Regions from separate parts of the Homo sapiens genome. Here region 1 is linked to region 2. A link means that fine-mapping ties the variant in region 2 to the expression of a gene that starts in the linked region. Tissue or cell type: whole blood. Region 2 holds a variant in brackets; the other region holds the start of a gene. All regions are shown on one strand. Distances are between the middles of the regions. Region 1 holds the start of AEBP2 (AE binding protein 2). Region 2 has its middle 30 kb from the start of AEBP2.

Region 1 (10,231 bases), 31 kb after region 2:
TGGAACTTTTCACACTTTTCATCCTATCTCCTATATATTAGATTCTACAGATGTACAATATAATCTAATCATATCATACCTTTATTAAAATATCTTAGTACATACCTGTCAGAACTTTTTTTTTTTTTTTGAGACAAAGTCTCACTCTGTCACCCAGGCTGAAGTGCAGTGGTGCTTGGCTTACTGAAAGCCTGGACCTCCCTAGGCTCAGGTGATCCTCCCACCTCAGCCTCCCATAGCTGTGTGCCACCATGACTGGCTAATTTTTTTTTTTTTTTCTTGAGACGGTGTCATGCTCCGTCACCCAGGCTGGAGTGCAGTGGCGCAATTTCGGCTCACTGCAACCTCCACCTCCCGGGTTCAAGTGATTCTCCTGTGCCTGGCTAATTTTTTTATTTTTTGTAGAGATAGGGTTTCACCTTGTTGGCCAGGCTGGCCTTGAACTCGTAACCTCAAGTGATTTGTCTGTCTCAGCTCTCCACAGTGCTGGATTACAGGCATGAGCCACTGTGACTGGTCCCCAACATCAACTTTTTATTCATGTCCTTCTTCAATCTAATATTTAACTATTTTTAGCTTTCTTGCCATGATTTCTTATGGTTAATTAACCTTGTCATGAATAAATGTTGATGCTTTTCCGTATATTGCTTCTCAGTTTGAGTTCCCCAACACAGAATTCTGTTCGCTCTTCAAAATCCAGCTCAAATTAATGAAACCAGATATAGTTATTGTATGTCTTACTATACACTTTGTCGAAATCCTACATTTTTCATGAAGCTTTCCTTGATTAACTCGGCCAAACATGAACCATAATCTCCAGGGCTTAACACAGTGTCTGGCACATACATTTGTTGGGGCTCAGAAAATGATACCCCAAAGTATGGTGCTTTGGCATGCTGAGTACTTTTGTCAGAGGTGTTCGAACCACAGCGACTCGCATCGTGAATACGGGATGGGTAAAATAAGGCTGAAACCTACTGGGCTGCATTCCCAGGAGGTTAGGCATTCTAAGTTAGGATAAGATAGCAGGTCAGCACAAGATACAGGTCACAAACTCCTTGCTGGTAAAAGGATGTGGTAAAGAAGCTGACCAAAACACACAAAAACCAAGATGCGATGTAAGTGACCTCTGGTCATCGTAGCTACTCATTATGTGCTAATTATAATACATTAGCATGCTAAGAGACAACTCCCACCAGTGCCTTGACAGTTTACAAATGCCATGCCAATGTCGGGAAGTTACCCTATCGTCTAAAAAATGGAGAAACCCTCATTTCCAGGAACTGCCCACCCTTTTCCTGGAAAACTCATGAATAATCTACCCCTTGTTTAGCGTATAATCAGGAGATGACCATAAAAGTGGCCAGCCAGAAGCCCTCAGTGCTGCTCTGTCTATGGAGTAGCCATTCTTTTATTCCTTTACTTTCTTAATAAACTTGCTTTCACTTTACTGTATGGACTTACCCCAAATTCTTTCTTGTGTGAGGTCCAAGAACCCTCTCCTGGGGTCGGGATCGGGGCCCCTTTCTGGTAACACTTTGTGTTTTCTTTTGTTTTCTTTTCTTTTTTCTTTTTTTTTTGGGGGGGGGATAAGGTCTTACTCTATTGCCCAAACTGGAGTGCAATGGCTCTTGATCACTCACAGTTCACTGCAGCCTCAATCTCCTGGCTCAAGCTGTCCTCCCACCTCAGCCTCCCAAGTAGCTGGGACTACAGGTGCACACCACCACACCTGGCTAGTTAACAACAAAAAAAAGTGTTTTGTAGCGATGGAGTTTCATCCCATTGCTCAGGCTGGTCTCGAACTCCTGGGCTCAAGTGATCCCCCTGCTTCAGTTTCCCAAAGTGCTGGGATTACAAGAGTGAGCCACTGCACCTGGCCCCCATGCTGAGTACTTTGAACTAAAGGAGATTGGAAAGCCTGAGAAGCAAAGTCTCTCACTGAACCTCTGTCCTGCTGTCTCCTATCCCTGTTACTCACCCTAGGCTAGTCATATAAACCAGAACTCCTTTCCCCACAAAGTAAGCCATGAAACGAAGAAAGGTCACTCTCTGCCTTCTCATTTGAAGACTCTCATTCCAGAGAAGTCTGCTCTATACCTGGGTGTGGAAGGAATGCTACACAGAGAGGTCAAGACGAATCTGGACAGGCCTTGCTGGGTTTCCACACTCAGTCTATTACTATTAGTTCATTCTCTTTTTGTACAATCACATTTCTACATGGATGTCCACTCTGTTGAATCTAGGCATACAAATGGACAGCTTTCTCTGGGTCTTTACTTCTGAAGGCTCCTGTGTCACATAAGACTTCCATTAAATTAATTTGTTACACTTTTCTCTTGTTAACCTGTCTTTTGTTGTAGAAGTGTTGGCCATGACCCTTATGATGGGTGAGGAAAGGTATGGAGTGCAGTGGCATGATCATGGCTCACTGCAGCCTCAACCTCCAGGGCTCAAGTGAACCTCCCACTTCAGCCTCCTGAGTAGCTGGGACTACAGGTGTGCCGTAGAGACAGGGTCTCGCTATTTTACCCAGGCTGGTCTCAAACTCCTGGGCTCAAGTGAGCCTCCTACTTTGGCCTCCCAAAGTGCTGGGATTACAGGTATAAGCCACCCTGCCGGCCTTCTGATAGTTTTTAATTTACAGTTTACAGTGTATTTCACTTTAATACATTCCTTATCTAAGATTGCCTTTGAGGTTTAAAATGTTGGAAGTTAATACCTTACATTGTATGTGCCTCTGAAGGTATCTGTAAATGATGTCCCATGTTATTATTTTTGCATTCCCTTAGAGGCAACATTTTATATAACAGTTGTCCAAAGGCCTAAGGCAGAGGATGTAATACTGGGTACTCACGGTATATGACGACTTTCCCAAATGGGAAATGAGCATGGAGGCTCTGTTTTCAGGCAGTCAGTTCTATCCTCATTTTCCTTGAGTAGAAGCATCCCTAAAATTGGCCTGAAAATGTGTCCTTGGGTCAGGGTGTAATGTGGGCTCTTTTCCAGTCTCCTTTCTTCCAATGACCTCTTCCCTACTTTACAAAAGAAAGGCATAATTCTTCCTCATGCTAAATCTTAGTAAGGTGCAATACCCGGTTATGCAAAAACCTCCAGGACACCAAAGAAAGGCACAATTGACTGGTGAATAAGAATGGGGTAACACATCCTTTCACAAGTCAGGTGGTTTTCAGTTGCTTGCTTTCAACAAGTTGAAAGAGAACCTAATCAGAGTTGTCAGCTGACAGATCATTAAAAGTATTTTTTCTTTGTTAGATCTTTATGCGATTTTTGGGCATATAATGCGAAAGGCATTCAAAGAATTGTGTGGCATTACTATAACAAAACTCCATTCATTCTCATCTGCTTTTTTTATGCGAACAAGTTTTCTCAACACTTATATCCATGGAATTGAAAACTTGGAATAGAACTGATGCTGAACTATTTCTCAAAAAAATCCATCCACTGAAGGTCATAATGTATATTAGAAAAAAGTCCACCCAAGTTCATTTCTGCAAGATGCATTGCCAATAAAATTTTGCTTTTGTGTTTAGTACTTACAAACATTTGAAATAGATTTGTTTTGATCGGTTGAAATAAGAGCTTTATGATCACAGAAAATATAAAAAACAACCCAGATACTTCAATTTATGTTCACATTTTTATTACAAGTAAGACGATCAAAATAGTTCAAATATAAAATATATTACTAGGATAAAATTCTAGAGGAGATATGCAACGTCAATATGAGTTCCAGAAAACAATATTTGGAAATTGTATTTTCCAAACTGTATTTTAAAAAAATGGATATTAGTGGGTGTTAAATCCCTATGGTATTTAGAATCCATTGGCTATACAGTATTTAAACAATGCGACAGATGAAATATTTATAAGCCGGAAAAATGTAGCTGTCATTCTAAACTGTATAAGAACATACACAGCTTTACGAAATTGTTTTAGAAGGCTCATGAAGTAAAAAGTTTGAGGACCCTGAACCAAGATGTTTGCTCTGGGTTCAGGATGTCAACATCTCCAGGGGTATTCAAACATAGGGTGTATTAAAACCTGTCGCCCTGTGTTGCGCATAAAAATTTAGTACCTTACACCGTAGTGTTTTAATTTTTGCCCATTTTAAACCGCTCTCTTCGTAGACTGTAGGCTCGTTCTATTCCTGGCTCAGCTCCTGTACAGAGGGGACACTCCTCAAACACCCCCGGAATGAATGAGTTTATCGTGAGAACTCGGAAGGCTGCTAAAATCCCCGGCCAGCGTTGGAGTTTTCAGTCCGCGTGTCCCTGGGCTTCGAAGCCCGGCAGGGCGTGGGAAGGCCCCGAGGAAACGCTGAGCACTTGCAGGCGCCGGGGCGGGGGCGGGGGCGGGCACTGGGCAGCGGGGCGGGCGCCGGGCGGGGGCGGGGGCGCAGAACCCGCAGCCGGGGGAGGTGCTGCCTCGTGCCGCCGCGCAGGCGCGCAGCAGTCTCCGTGTGAGTGCGCGTAGTCGCGCGCCTGTCCCCGCGCGGGCTCCGTAGCGCGTGTGCAGGCTGACGCAGCTCGCGGGCCCTCCTCCTGCTCTGCAGCGGCGTCGGCGGAGTTTTGGGCGTTTGGGAGGGGGGCGAGGGAGAGAGAGTCGAGAGAGGGAGGCGGCGGTGGGGAGGAGGAGGAGGAGGAGGAGCAGGCGCCGCCATGGCCGCCGCTATCACCGACATGGCCGACCTGGAGGAGCTCTCCCGCCTGAGCCCTCTGCCCCCCGGCAGCCCGGGTTCGGCGGCGCGGGGCCGGGCTGAGCCCCCCGAGGAGGAGGAGGAAGAGGAGGAGGAGGAAGAGGAGGCGGAGGCCGAGGCGGTGGCGGCGCTGCTGCTGAACGGCGGCAGCGGTGGGGGCGGCGGAGGCGGCGGCGGAGGAGTGGGGGGCGGCGAGGCAGAGACGATGTCGGAGCCGAGCCCCGAGAGCGCCAGCCAGGCCGGGGAGGACGAAGACGAGGAGGAGGACGACGAGGAGGAGGAAGATGAGAGCAGCAGCAGCGGCGGGGGTGAGGAGGAGAGTAGCGCCGAGAGCCTGGTGGGCAGCAGCGGCGGGAGCAGCAGCGACGAGACCCGCTCGTTGAGCCCCGGCGCCGCCAGCAGCAGCAGCGGGGATGGGGACGGCAAGGAGGGCCTGGAGGAGCCCAAGGGACCGCGGGGCAGCCAGGGCGGCGGCGGGGGCGGCAGCAGTAGCAGCAGCGTAGTCTCCAGCGGCGGCGACGAGGGCTACGGGACTGGGGGAGGCGGAAGCAGCGCGACCTCCGGGGGCCGGCGGGGCAGCTTGGAGATGTCGTCGGATGGGGAACCCCTGAGCCGCATGGACTCGGAGGACAGGTCAGTGCTCTGAAGCGTTTCCCCTTCCCTTCCTCCTCTTGAACTCCCGGGCCCCTCAGAGGGGGACCAAGGCGACGTTTTGCCGCGATCCCCCTGCTCCCCGAATCCTCGGCCCCTCCCCCAGACTCTCAACTCGGAAATCTCTCGCCGTCGCCGCCGCGCCCCTCTCGCAGCGCATCGCGGCTTCCAACTCTCAAACCGTTCCCCCCCAACTCTCCTTTCCCCGCCCTCTTTCCCCTCGGCGCTTCGCTCCTCACGGACCTCAGGACGGCTCTAACTCGGAAACAGTCCCCAAACGGGCCCAGATCCTCTGGCGGAGCAGAAGAGGGCCTTGATGTACACACGTCGGTACTCAAGGTTAGCTTCTTCCAACCGTGTTCGGGAACACTTGTCAGAACTACAATTGACAAGTGTTTCCAATATGGCTGGTCTCGCCTGGATTTAACAGAACTTCCTTGTCCATGGGAGAGACCCCAGCTATCACTTTTCTCTACTTAAACAAAAAAAGGACTGTTCTTTTATATTAAATCATTGCCTCCCAAATCCCTCATTTGTAGTCAGTCATGTGGTCTCCAACGTGATTTTAACAATCTTTTCTATTTGTTTTGGGAGCATATCTGGGAAAAAGTTTTAAACACGTATAAATGGTTGTGGAAAAGAATAGTGAATTGATGGCCTTTTAAGATAACTTTGCGGAATCAGAGAGTTGGAATCGTAACAAAATACAGTCTTGAAGGTACAACGTAGTTTGCGGCTTTATAGTAATGTTTCAACATGAGAGTCATGATTTTAAATGATAATATTTAAAGTCATGCATTGGAGAGGTCTCGGAAGGAATGAGTATTATTTTTCTTACTAAAGCTTGTTAGAAGTAACTGGAGAGTGACAAAAATGCGCATTTTTTCAGAACATTTAAAAAGTGTGATAGTGTATGTTTCAATTGTCTTATCATTACTTTTGATCTGTTTGGGTTAGTTGGTTTTTAATGTACTTTTAAAAAAACGAGAATCACATGCATATTATGCCACTTCTAAAGTGTATTAGCGTTTATTTTGACCATCTATGTTTTGACAATCACATTTTTTTTAAACATGCTCTCCAGAAAAGTATAGCAATGGAAATTTTAGTGGTCGATAGTGATTTTCATTTAAGAGTTTAATATTCTAAAGTTCTAGGAATTCTGATTAATTGATTAAAAACGAACACCTTAGTATTTAATGCTACAAGTAATACAGAGTCCTGGATATTTTGAAAATCTGGCATTAGATTCTGTTTGACATTAACGTCTAGTTAAGAAAATATCTTCGGGTAAAGTAGACTGTATAAACCTTAGAAAAATTGTGTTGAACTGTGTAGGCATGGGTAGGAAGGAGAATGTCTTCAAGAAAATTAAAAATTGATGTAAACTGCACAATGAAGCATGTGCTATTTTTACCATTTTATGCTCCTCTGATACCATTACATATCTGAAAGTTGACATTAGTTTATAAAATCAGCGTTTTTCATTTACTCAGTATACACGTATTATGCTTGCCTACCACTGTACAAATTAGATGTCTTCCATTTCATTCCCACAACTATGGTGCAAGATAGGTATTATTTTGACTTCTGTTTAACAGATGAAGAAGCAAGTTGAGTATCTTACTCAGGACAGTAAATACAGCATGGAAATGGTGGGCTGGATATGAGCAAAGGTTCTCAAGTCCCCTATTATTTCCACTGAAGAGTTAAAATAATTCGCCTTAAATAAGTTGAGGCCGGGCGCGGTGGCTCAGGCCTGTTAACCCCAGGACTTTGGGAGGCCGAGGTGGGCGGATCACCTGAGTTGGGAGTTTGAGATCAGCCTGGCCAACATAGTGAAACCTTATCTACATTAAAAATACAAAAATTACCCGAGAGTGGTGGCGCGCGCCTGTGTTCCCAGCTACTCGGGAGGCTGAGGCAGGAGAATCGCTTGAACCCGGGAGGCAGAGGTTGCAGTGAGCTGAGATGGTGCCACTGCACTCCAGCCTGGGCGACAGAGCGAGACTCCGTCTCAAAAAAAAACCAAGTGATATGTGTCAGAGTTTTGTTTTTAGTTAGTGTCCATTTACTACATCACTTCAGGAGACGAATTATTGGTTAAGTACATTTAGGAAGTGGAGTTGTGGCTTTTATTTGACATTAATGAGATATTTACTTGAGTATATAATTTTTACATCTTATTTCAGAATAAGAAGTAAAATACGGGTGTCACAAATCCAACTACAGTTAAAACTTGATAACCAAGCAAACTTGGTTTTCTTAATGCTTAATTTTAGAGACTACAGAATACTGTTTTTAATGTCACCATTTCAGGGTAATAGATTTGTCACTTGTATGAAGAAGGCTTACTAGTGAAACTGGCTTGGGGTCTTAATAATCTTAATTCTGAAACATCTTCTTGTTGCCTTTGAGATTTTTCTCCCAGTTATTTTGAGTTTGGAAAGGATCCCTAATTCTTATAAATTACTGTAGATTACATCAATCTGTGGATTTTATAGGTTGATTTCATGGTAAGAAAACTTCATTTTTGTAACCAGTGGAAGGATAATCTTAGTTTTAAAGTGCTCTATAACATTTTTAGGCATTCCTATTACAAAGATTCTATTATAATGCCCATTTACCTTTCCCATCGTTTTGGTTACGTTGTGCTTTTTAGTTTATCTGATATGCTCTAGAATTTGTTGAACATCTTTGTTAAATATCTTTTTCTTTTTTTTTTTTGAGACGAGTCTCACTCTATCGCCCAGGCTGGAGTGCAGTGGTACGATCTCGGCTCACTGCAACCTCTGCCTTGTGGGTTCAAGCGATTCTCCTTCCTCAGCCTCCTGAGTAACTGGGATTACAGGTGAGTGCCACCACCCCTGGCTAATTTTTGTTTTTAGTAGAGATGCGATTTCACCATGTTGTCCAGGCTGGTCTTGAAATTCCTTGACCTCAAATGATCCTCCCACCTGGGTCTTCCAAAGTGCTGGGATTACAGGAGTGAGCCGCCACCGCAGGCCATGTTAAATATCTTAAGTGCTACTTTTAAAAAGATAATTAGGCCGGGCATGGTGGCTCACCCCTGTAATCCCAGCACTTTGGGAGGCCGAGTCGGGTGGATCATTTGAGGTCAAGGAATTCCAAGACCAGCCTGGACAACATGGTGAAACCCCATCTCTACTAAAAATACAAAAAAATGAGCCAGGCATGGTGGTGCAGGCATGTAATCCCAGCTACTCAGGAGGCTGGGGCAGGAGAATGGCTTGAATCTGGGAGGCGGAGGTTACAGTGAGCTGAGATTGCACCACTGCACTCCAGCGTGGGCGACAGAGCAAGACTCCATCTCAAAAAAAGATAATTAAATATAAAGACATAGATATTAGAGGTTATGACCTGAGATGTCATTTATGGTATTGGAAGGTTTTGTGGTAAAAAGTGACTAATTTATGAAATGATTAAATACCACTTGGTACAAAAAGTTGATTTTTTTCCCCCCAGAAGAAAGTTTTTCAAAACCAGTGTAAGTTTATAGCGTGTTTATTTTAGTAAATTTAGAAATTCTTGAAATTTATATGTAATTTTATTTTTACTTTGGTTATAAAGATAGTAGGGAGAAGTATTTTGGTTATAAAGATAGTAGGGAGAAGTATTTAGCTATGTGAAACCGCTAAAAACTAGCTTTTCTTTACTCTGAACTTTTTTTCTCTTCAGTGAAGCTGAAGTACTTTTTAAAAAAGTTATGCTCTTAGGTTAATTTCAGAGGCTATGGTAACTTTAAAAAAAATTTAAAAAATTTTAAACATAATTTTATTTTCATTCTTCCAACACAGTATCATGTAAAAATAGTTTAAAATATGGTTGAATGAATGAGTCATCCAAAAAGTGATCAAATGTCAGCACTTGTTACTGAACGTGTATTTATGCTAAAAAAGTTAATGCCGAGAAAATAGAAGACAGTCTCAAGTTCAAGTAGTAAATTAGCTTTTAAATGGAATTTTAATATTTAAAATGCCCGTGGAGTTAGTTAACAAATTAGTACTAGCTATTGAATCAGTTAATATATGAAAGTACTCTTGGCCAGGCATGTGGCCCACACCTGTGATTCCAGCACTTTGGGAGGCCGAGGAGGGCAGATCACATGAGGTCAGGAGACTAGCCTGAGCATGAACCACCAGACCTGGCGCAAATCTTAATATTACTGCCTATATTTCAATTTTTGAGTAGTATATCTTTGAACTTTAGTTCCTCAACTACAAAACAGGTATTACTCTGAAGTGTTGTTTTGTGGTTCAAGTGAAATAATTTCTGTTAAAGAGCGCTGTGAACTGTTTGGAGGAATCCATCCACGTTGCTTGAATGCGTGCATCTTTTCTGTTGTAGAATGGTATTTTGGAGGGCAGGGACATTTTTGCTTTTTTAGTATCTTTGTAAGTACCTAACATAATATCTTGGGTGTGGTGAATACTCCATTAATTACTAGCATTAAATTGAGAATACCAACAGTAGTATGTATGTATGCATTTATGTATTTATTTTGAGACAGAGTCTTGCTCTGTCACGCAGGCTGGAGTGCAGTGGCGCGATCTCAGCTCACTGCAGCCTCTGCCTCCTGAGTAGCTGGGACCACAGGCACCTGGCCCAACAGTAGTATTTATTTAACGTCTTACTACTTGAGGTCTCTTGTCTATGAAAGGGGGACAATAATGGTTCCTATCCTGTAAGATTGCAATGTGAATTGTAGAGTATTTGGTACACGTTCATTAAGTGTTTACTGTGTGATGGGTATATTCTACAGATGTATATAGAATCCATGTTATGTGACAGATGCTTTATTTTTTTTGATATAGGGTCTCACTCTGTCACCCAGGCTGG
Region 2 (10,231 bases):
GGGCGTGTGTGGCATGGCGGCCATCGCGCTTCCTCTCAGGCTCTGAAAACTCAACAGTTTTCTACTTCACAGTGTAGGGTGCTACCCACTGCTTCTTTCAAAGGGTCTGTGGTTTTCTGTTAAGTTCCTGTGTTGCTTCTCGGAAAAATGTTCACAGTGTGAATCTCTACACACTATTCTGTCTTTCCAAGTGGGAGAGGCACGCTAACACCGGCTCCTATCCGCCATATTGGAAAAACAAGGTTTCAAAGATTTTCTGATTTACAACTGGTTAAGGAAGGGAAGCATTTATAAAGACTGGGTTCCGCAGAAAAGAACGTTGGGTCTGGCTCGTGGGTGTGGCTTTCTCCAGGCTCCTCAGGAAGAAATTTAGAACAAAGAATGCGGGAGAGTTGAGTTCTCAGTTCTCCCTTATCTGAGGTCTATGTGGCAGTGGATCCATTTGTTAGGGATCCATGTTTATGAAACGCAGGGCCATATGTTACGATATTATTTTTAGTTTCTATAGGGAACCAAACATCTCGTGATTCCAACTTCCTTGGCTACTCTTTTTTTTTTTTTTTTTTTTTTCAGACAAGGTCTCACTGTGTTGCCCAGGCTGGAGTGCAGTGGCGAGATCTGGACTCACTGCAACCTCTGCCTCCAGGGTTCAAGTGATTCTCCTGCCTCAAGCCTCCTGAGTAGCTGGGACTACAGGCATGCCCCACCACGCCCAGCTAATTTTTTGCCTTTTTAGTAGAGATGGGGTTTCACCATGTTGCCAAGGCTGTTCTGGAACTCAAGTGATCTGTCCGACTCGTCCTCCCAAAGTGCTGGGGTTACAGGCGTGAGCCACCTCGCCCAGTTGGCTATCGTTTTAGGCTACTATTACCTTCTTGCTTATCAAATTGCTTATTTACTTCTCAGCACTAGCTAGGTATCTGGAATTGTTATTTTTATTTTATTTACTTATTTTTTTTTTTGAGACGGAGTCTCGCTCTGTCGCCAGGCTGGAGTGCAGTGGCGCGATCTCGGCTCACTGCAACCTCTGACTCCGATTTCAAGCAATTCTCCTGCCTCAGCCTCCTGAGTAGCTGGGACTGACAGGCATGTACCACCATACCCAGCTAATTTTTGTATTTTTAGTACAGACAGGGTTTCACCATGTTGGTCAGGATGGTCTCCATCTCTTGACCTCGTGATCCGCCCACCTCACCCTCCCAAAGTCCTGGGATTACAGGCGTGATCCACTGCGCCCGGCTGGATTTGTTCTTAAAGAAATTCAAGATTTTCCTCTATTTTCATGCTTGTGGCAGGATGGTAGAGAGGTGGGAGGACTGGCAGGCCCCTAACAGGGGTTCCTGCTTCGTCTCACACCCCCATTATGAACATCCCTCACCAGAGGATACATTTATTAAAATCAATGAACCTATAAACCTACATTGATACTTTATCTTTTTTTTTGAGATGGAGTCTGTGTCCCCAGGCTGGAGTACAGTGGGCCATCTCAGCTCACTGCAACCTCCACCTCCCGAGTTCAAGTGATTCTCCTGTGTCAGCCTCCGGAGTAGCTGGGACTACAGATGTGCACCACCATGCCTGGCCAGTTTTTTTTTTTTTTTTCTTTTTTGAGACGGAGTCTCACTCCAGGCTGGAGTGCAGTGGTGCAATCTTGGCTCACTGCAACCTCTGCCTCCCGAGTCAAAGGACTCTCCTGCTTTAGCCTCCCAAGTAGCTGGGATTACAGGAGCCTGCCACCACGCCTGGCTAATTTTTGCATTTTTAGTAGAGATGGGGTTTCACCATATTGGCCAGGCTAGTCTCGAACTTCTGACCTCAAGTGATCCACTGCCTAGGGCTCCCAAAGTGCTGGGATTATAGGCATGAGCCACCACACCCAGCCTACATTGATACATCATTATCACCCAAAGTCCATAGTTTACATTAGGGCTCACTCTTGGCATCATACATTCTGTGGGTTTACAAAAATGTATAATGACATGCATCATGATTATATTATCATACAAAATAGTTTAACTGCACTAACAATCTTCAGATAAATAGACGCACACTTTGGGAGGCCCAGGTGGGTGGATTACCTGAGGTCAGGAGTTCGAGATCAGCCTGACCAATATGATGAAACCCCGTCTCTACTAAAAATACAGAAAATAGCCGAACGTGGTGGCATGCACCTGTAATCCCAGCTTACTCTGGAGGCTGAGACAGGAGAATTCGCTTGAACCCAGGAGGCGGAGGTTGCAGTGAGCTGAGATTGCGCCATTGCACTCCAGCCTGGGCAGCAAGAGCGAAACTCTGTCTCAAAAAAAAAAAAAAATTTTACTGAGGTCTATTTTATCAATTATTTCTCTCACGGATCTTGCCTTTGGTGTTCTATCTAAAAAGTGATCACCAAATTCAAGATCATCTGGATTTTCTCCTATGTTATCTTCTGTGAGCTTTATAGTTTTGCGTTTTACATTTAGGTCTGTGATCCATTTTGAACTAATTTTTGTGAAGGATGTAAGGTCTGTCTAGTTTCATATTTTGCATGTGGATGTCCAGTTGTTCAACAACATTTGTTGAAAAGACTATCTTTTCTCTATTGTATTACCTTTGCTCCTCTGTCAAAGAAATTTTTTACGTTTAAAAAAATGTAAAGATTGGGCATGGTGTCTCACACTTGTAATCTCGGCTACTCAGGAGGCTGAGACAGGAAGATTACTCAAGCCCAATAATTTGAGAACATTATGAACAACATAGCGAAACCCCATCTCTAACAACAAAAAAGAATTAGCCTGGCATGGTGCACACCTGTAGTCCCAGCTACTCCGGAGGCTAAGGTGGGAAGATTATTTGAGCCCAGAAGTTCAACGCAAGGTTGCAGTAAGCTATTGGTACCGCTGCACTTCAGCTCGGGTGACACAGAAAGACCCCATCTCTTTTTTCTTTTTTCTTTTTTTTTTCTTTTGAGATGGAGTCTGGGTCTGTAGCCCGGGCGCAATCTTGGCTCACTGCAACCTCCACCTCCCAGGTCCCAGCTCAAGCAATTCTCCTGCCTCAGCCTCCCAAGTAGCTGGGATTACAGGCGCACGCCACCATGCCCAGTTAATTTCTGTATTTTTAGTAGAGACGGGGTTTCACCATGTTGGCCAGGCAGGTCTTGAACTCCTGACCTCATGATCTGACTGCCTTGGCCTCCCAAAGTGCTGGTATTACAGGCGTGAGCCACTACGCCCAGCCTCCATCTCTTTTTTCTTTTTAGAGACAGGGTCTTACTATGTTGCCCAGGCTGGTCCTGAACTCCTGGGCTCAAGCAATCCTTCTGTCTTGGCCTCCCAAAGTGCTGGGATTACAGGTGTGAGCCACTGAGCCCAGCCGAGCCTATTGCTTAAAAAAGTTAAAAATGGCTGGACGTGGTGGCTTACTCCTGTAATCCCAGTACTTTGGGAGGCCGAGGCGGGCGGGTCACCTGAGGTTGGGAGTTCGAGACCAGCCTGACCAACATGGAGAAACTCCGTCTCTACTGAAAATACAAAAAACTTATCCCGGCTAGGTGGTGCATGCCTGTAATCCCAGCTACTCAGGAGTCTGAGGCAGAAGAATTGCTTGAACCCCGGAGGCGGAGGTTATAGTGAGCTGAGATTGCGCCATTGCACTCCAGCCTGGGCAACAAGAGTGAAACTCTGTCTCAAAAAAAAAAAAAAAGTTTAAAATGTAAGGAAGATGTTTCTGTTAAGCTATGCTGTTCTTTTTGTAAGGATTAAGTTTGGGACTTAGAGAATACGTATGTGTAGCTACTTAAGTATACATAAAATATCTCACCATAACAAAAATACAAAACCAAATTAGAATATTAGTTGTTTTGGAAAGGGAAACTGGGCAGTTGGGAGGCAGAAGTAGAAAGACTTTTCTTGGCCGGGTGTGCTGGCTCATGCCTGTAATCCCAGCACTATGGGAGGCCGAGGTGGACGGATCACCTGAGGTCAGGAGTTCGAGACCAGCCTGGCCAACATGGTGAAACTCTGTCTCTACTATAAATACAACAAAAAATTAGCTGAGCATGGTGGTGCATAGTTACTTGGGAGGCTGAGACAGGAGAATCGCTTGAACCCAGGAGGTGGAAGTTGCGGTGAGCCGAGATTGCACCACTGCGCTCCAGCCTGGGCCACAGAGCAAGAAAAAAAAAAAAAAAGAAAGCGTTTTCTCGTATACACTTTCTGGATTTAATGTGAATGAATCGCCTATTTCAAAAATGCAAGGCCGGGCGCGGTGACTCACACCTAAAATCCCAGCACTTTGGGAGGCCGAGGCAGGTGGATCACGAGGTCAGGAGTTCAAGAGCAGCCTAACCAACGTGGTGAAACCCCGTCTCTACTAAAAAAATGCAAAAAATTAGCTGGGCATGGTGGCGCACACCTGTAATTCCAGCTGCTCAGGAGGCTGAGGTAGGAGAATCGCTTGAACCCGGGAGGCAGAGGTTGCAGTGACCCGAGATCTCGCTACTGCACTCCAGCATGGGTGACAGAGTGAGACTCTGTCTCAAATAAATAAATAAATAAATAAATAAAGTAAAAATAAATAAAGCAAAACAGCAAAAAAAATTTTTTTTTGTTTCTTTTCCGGAAGATATATTTTATGTAAATATAAGCAAACACATATCTATCTTTTTTACCTGGCATAGAGTTTGGCATAGAATCGGGGAAAAATTGGGCAAAGGAAGTCAGGTACCCCCAAAAGAACCCAACTTGACTACAAAAGCTTGCAGCCTTCAACTAGTGATTTTTAATTAGTTTATTTAATTTTGCAACACCAAAACAAAAAAGTTTTTCCTGCATCATTTAATCTACTTGCGTTAGTGTTGCCCTGAGAGGTGGCTGCAAAATCATATTAGTTCAATTACAGAACTTCGCATTATATTAGGCATAACTATTCCCTTTGGGTCCTAATTAAATAAGGTTGAATCAACTTTCTGCCTTCAGCATTTGTGCTAAAAAAAAAAAAAAATCCCTATTGCATTATCCTACATACCCTTGGAAAAATAAAAAAAGAGAGAATGAATATCTTGTCCCAAAGGGTTAAAACCTCAGAATCATATTTTTTTAACTCACTGGAAAATGGCTTCCACATTCCACAGGATAAGGAAGGAAAACTGTGAAATCACTTTGAATGGATTTGTTCAGCAAGGGAAGAGCTGGCTCATTTTCCACGTGGACTGCCAAGTTCACCAGCCGTGGGGGGAAATGATTTTAGTCTTACTTTCTTACTTCACATACATTTTTAAACTGCAGTCTTATGGAAATGAAAATCCCATTTGGAGATCAGATTCTTCAGATGGATTTAATTTATATACCATTTGACCAAGTCAATCAGACCAGCTTAGTGGAAGGCTTTTTTCATTATAATGTCGTGGGCTTTGCCTAGGAATCTTCTTTTCTAAGTTATAGAAAGTCAATTTAGTAAGTACAGCATCTAATTTAGGCTTTGTACTTAATTACCTTGGGACTGCATTAAAACTTTCTTCTGAGCAATAATTACATTGCTTCTCCTTAAAATGCAAACTCTCTGAATCATAGTCTGATTTAACCTTCCAAAAGCTAGAGTTTCCCTAGATTGACTGGTAGCTAAAAATGCTCCAGGGACCTGATTTCAACCCATAGCTTTTTTGTGTAGTAGTTATAAAAGTGCAAAAATGGAGCAGACCAGGGCAAGAAAACAGAACATGTAGGGCTTCTCTCTCAAGAAATTAGACCCTCTCTCACTCTAAGATAGGGCCAGCGCCCTAATCTTCACTGCTCAACCTCCTTTTTCTCATCCCCCGCTATGGTTGTGGAGTATAAATGAATTAATTTACTCTTATCTGACAGAGCTGGAGCC[A/T]GTTGGATTTAACAAAAACTGCAAACCAGCACGTGCTCCCACTCTTATATGTGTACCCTGGGGTTCACCGAAGAACTTTCTGCCACTATTCTTTCCCTTCAAGGGAAGCTGGAGTAAACACACCTCCTGCCACTTCATTACATCAGAGGTTTGTCTCTCCCATTAGTAAATCCACAGAGAGTAGGGACTTCCTGTCTGCCAAATGGTGTAGATGGAAGAGATTCAAATATTTGAGACAGAACCTGCATTGCGTCTGGCCCTTTATAGATGTTTTCTCTAGCTGAGACAGCCAATTCGAATACCCTGCGCTCTCCCTAGCTTCCTTGTGCCTCTAGGAACTGCTTCTCCCCTGTTTCGTGACCTTCATCTACCCCCTTCCCCAACCAAAAGATTTTTGTATTCTTTACCAGAGACCCTACAAAATCCTGGTACATAGTAGGTGTTCAGTAATTATTTGTTGAGTAAATTAAAATACTAAATTATGACTATCTAGGACCTGTTTCCCAGGCTTCTGGAAATAATCAGGATGGTTTCAGCCCATGCGGATCTCAGTATCTAAGAATTCGGGAGCAGGAAACATTTGTAAGACCGTTTAATGCTTGAGCTTGAAGAGACCTGTCAGTGAAGTGCTAATAAATGTAAATAGCTGTGTTTGAGGAAGGAGGGACGGCTTAACTTGCATTGCAGGTGCTAAAATGCGTAATTGGTTTTGGGTAAACTAATTTTACTTAAACTAAACTTAACTTCCATATCAATGGCAGAGAAATTGCTGATGTCAGCAATGATTAAGTTCACTGGCTGTGAGGCGGTCACGGCAAAAAAAAACATTCACTGAAAGCTTATAGGGATGTTAACAGATGTGGAACAACACCCATTTTACTGACATAAACTAAAGAAAAGGCAAAGCTATTAGCAAAAGTCACTTGGAAGCTTGGACTACAATTTGAGAGTGGATCTCCTGAAATTATTTAACTCTGTAAAACAAACAAATTAGCCTATTCTCATCTATAATCCTTGTTCACTCTTAGCTGGAGTGTTAGAACAACTATCCAGCTGATTTACTAATTCGCAATATTAAAGGAAGCTTGGTCCAGAGGGAGGATGTAGCTCACTGTTTCAGCCTGGGAACCTCCTCTACCACATCCCGTGCCCTGATGGGGAGACCCAGCCTTGCCAGAGAGCCACACAGACTGAAAATGCAGAGAGAATTTCCTCTTCTGTCTTTGGTTCTTAGCTCTTACTGAGCCAGAGGAGCCCCAGGACATTTTGGCCAGGGCCTTTTTGCATCTCTAAAAGGGGATTTTACAAATTCCTGCTTCTTAGAGTTGGGAGGATTAAATGAGTTAATCCATGTAAAGTTCTCAGAACAGTGCCTGGCACAAGTAAAGACTTATAATACATACTTGTTATTATTACTATGATTATTCTTCTCTCAGGTTCTGGCACATCTAAGACCTCTACAGTGCTGGAACATCGCCCGAAGGAAACACATTCATTCACATTTCTATTAAGCTCTTCCAGGGAAACTAGCATTTAATGAGCAGCAACTATAAGACAGAAAGAAAACACTTGACATAGATTGACTCGTTTACTCCTCATAATAACTCTAAAAATTATTGCGCACATTTTAGAGGTTGGAGAACAGACTCAGACCATGTACAGTGAAGCTCAGAATTTCCTGGCATAAGGCTGGCTTGGAATTGAAAAGGTATGTCTGACTCTAAACTGGGTCCTCATTCACATCACCCACGTGAAAGGCATGAATCACCAGACTCCTGTCCGTAAGTGCTGCGCAGGTTCTGTACTACAAGGGCACTGGTGGAGACAGCAAGGCTGAGTTCTTCTTATTCTGCAGCTGCTCTCAGCAGGGCTGTATCTGTCCGGAGGTAGTGCCTTTTCCAAGTCACACAGAGGTGTTCTGTGGACTCTCAGAGGCCCTGGAATCTTGTATCTTAAGATTCAAAATTGAAGTCACATATGAACACTAGAGCTGATGTGAAGACTGCATATTTTGATTCCCAAAGTTTTTTATTTTTTTAATTTTTTTTATCTTTTATTTTTGAGACAGGGTCTTGTGCTATCGCCAGGCTGGAGTGCAGTGGTGTGATCTTAGTTCACTACAACCTCCACCTCCTGGGTTCAAGCGATTCTCCTGCCTCAGCCTCCCGAGTAGCTGGGACTATAGGCACACGCCACCACACCTAGCGAATTTTTTTGTATTTTTAGTAGAGAAGGGGTTTCACCATGTTGGCCAGGATGGTCTCGATGTCTTGACCTCTTGATCTGCCCACCTTGGTCTTCCAAAGTGCTGGGATTACAGGTGTGAGCCACTGCACCCGGCCTCCGAAGGTTATTATTATTATTATTATTTTTAATTTTATGGAGACAGAATCTCACTATGTTGCCCAGGCTAGTCTCAAACTCCTGGCCTCAAACAATCCTCCTGCCTCGGCCTCGCAAAGTGCTGGTGTTACAGGACAGAGAAATATGTTATGGAAAGGGGTCCCGAACAAGACCCTAAGAGAGCGTTCTTGGATTTCGTGCAAGAAAGAATTCAGGGAGAGTCCGCAGTGCAAAGTGAAAGCAAGTTTATTAAGACAGTAAAGAAATAAAAGAATGGGGAGGCTCTGGGTGCCTCCCCGGGGGCCCGGTCCCTGGCGCTGCCCTGGCGGCCTCATGGCCGGCTCCGAGGTGGCCATGCCGCTTTCCCCGTCACGAGGGGCCCAGGAGGCTCGCGGCAGGGGCTGCCACATGCAGGACCTGCCCCGGCGTTGGGGTGTGGGGTCCCCTGGCCTGGAGCGGGCTCGTCCTGGCGGGCCTGGATCCAAGCACAGTCTCAGCTTTTGGAGCCAGCAGCAGCCGGGCCGAATTCAGTTTTTCCGGAATTCATTTGTTCTGACCCAAGTTTAGCCGACAGGATCCTGGCGATGCAGCCCAACAGGAAGCAAAGCACAGGGAAGCAGAAATGAGAAACAGTATCTTAACCCAAGTTTTGGATCAGTCGGCCGGGCCAGGTTTAAGTAACTTAGCACTTGTAAAGCCTGAAAAAACTAAAGCAGTAGAGAATTACCTTATACAGATGGCAAGATATGGACAACTGAGAAGGTGTCAGAACAAGGTTTAATAGAAATCCTTTAAAAAGTAAGCCAACAAACAGAAAAGACAACAACAGTGAAATTCAACAGAAGAAAAGTAATGGACTCTGATGAAGAAGACGATTATTGAACTACAAGTGCTCACAGACTAGAACTTAACAGAACAATTCTAGGACAGAAGTTAAGATCTGATTAAATATTTAGTTTGTTTATTGTCTATATGCCTTTTAAAAAATAAACTTGTTATGCAAAATAAAAAAAAAGAAATAAAAGAATGGCTATTCCATAGACAGAGCAGCCCAGCGGGCCGCTGGTTGTCCATTTTTATGGTTATTTATTGATGATATGCTAAACGAGGGGTGGATTATTCATGCCTCCCCTTTTTAGACCATATTGGGTAACTGCCTGATGTTGCCATGGCATTTGTAAACTGTCATGGTGCTGCTGGTAGTGAGCAGTGAGGACAACCAGAGGTCACTCTTGTGGCCATCTTGGTTTTGGTAGGATTTAGCTGGATTCCTTACTGCAACCTATTTTATCAAGGTTTTTTTTTTGTTTGTTTTTGTTTTTTGTTTTTTTTTTTGAGACAGTCTCACTGTGTCACCCAGGCTGGAGTGCAGCGCCGCCATCTCAGCTCACTGCAACCTCTGCTGCCTAGGTCCAAGCGATTCTCCTGCCTTAACCTCCCGAGTAGCTGAGATTACAGGCGCCTGCCATCGTGCCTGGCTAATTTTTGTATTTTTAGTAGAGATGTGGTTTCACCATGTTTGCCAGGCTGATCTTGAACTCCTGACCTCGTGATCCTCCCGCCTCAGCCTCCCAAAGTGCTGGGATTACAGGTGTGAGCCATTGCGCCCGGCCAACAAGGTCTTTATGACCCGTATCTTGTGCTGATCTCCTATCTCATCCTGTGATTTAGAATGCCTTAACTGTCTGGGAATACAGCCCCGTAGGTTTCAGCCTCATTTTACCCAGCTCCTATTCAAGATGGAGTTGTTCTGGTTCACATGCCTCTGACACTGGCATGACAGGCAGCCAGCATACCTGGCCAATTCCCAAAGTTACTTTAAGAGGGCATCTCAAAATCAGTGGGCTTTCAGGATGCACTGAAATTGTATGTGCATGTGAAGTGCCTAAGATTTTCAGGGAATAGGCCTGGCACTAGGATGAGGTGAGAGAGGCACCCAGGATGCAAAAGCTAAGGAGGCATCACTCTCAACATGGGACAAGTGCAGGCTCAGCACTGGAGGGCGATGTCTTTTTCCATTTTGTGCTCTAGGCAC

What was found. PIP is the estimated chance that this variant, and not a neighbour inherited with it, causes the effect.
Region 1: it holds the start of AEBP2, and the variant in region 2 is fine-mapped to the expression of AEBP2 in whole blood (INTERVAL, PIP 0.99).

The regions. Positions count from the first base shown.
Region 1 is chr12:19,435,018-19,445,248 of GRCh38, forward strand. It overlaps AEBP2 (AE binding protein 2), which reads left to right and starts at 4,475. Exons shown (of 8, transcript NM_153207.5): 1 at 4,475-5,353. The coding sequence starts at 4,683. RefSeq lists silencers at 4,343-4,592, 4,653-4,802, 4,813-4,912 and enhancers at 5,563-5,612, 5,643-5,732.
Region 2 is chr12:19,404,383-19,414,613 of GRCh38, forward strand. It overlaps a transcript of AEBP2 not described here and the pseudogene PDCD5P1. Among named protein-coding and RNA genes, the nearest start is that of AEBP2, 30 kb to the right of the region's middle. RefSeq lists enhancers at 3,650-4,150, 6,187-7,079. The variant A/T (reference allele first, on the strand shown) is at 5,854.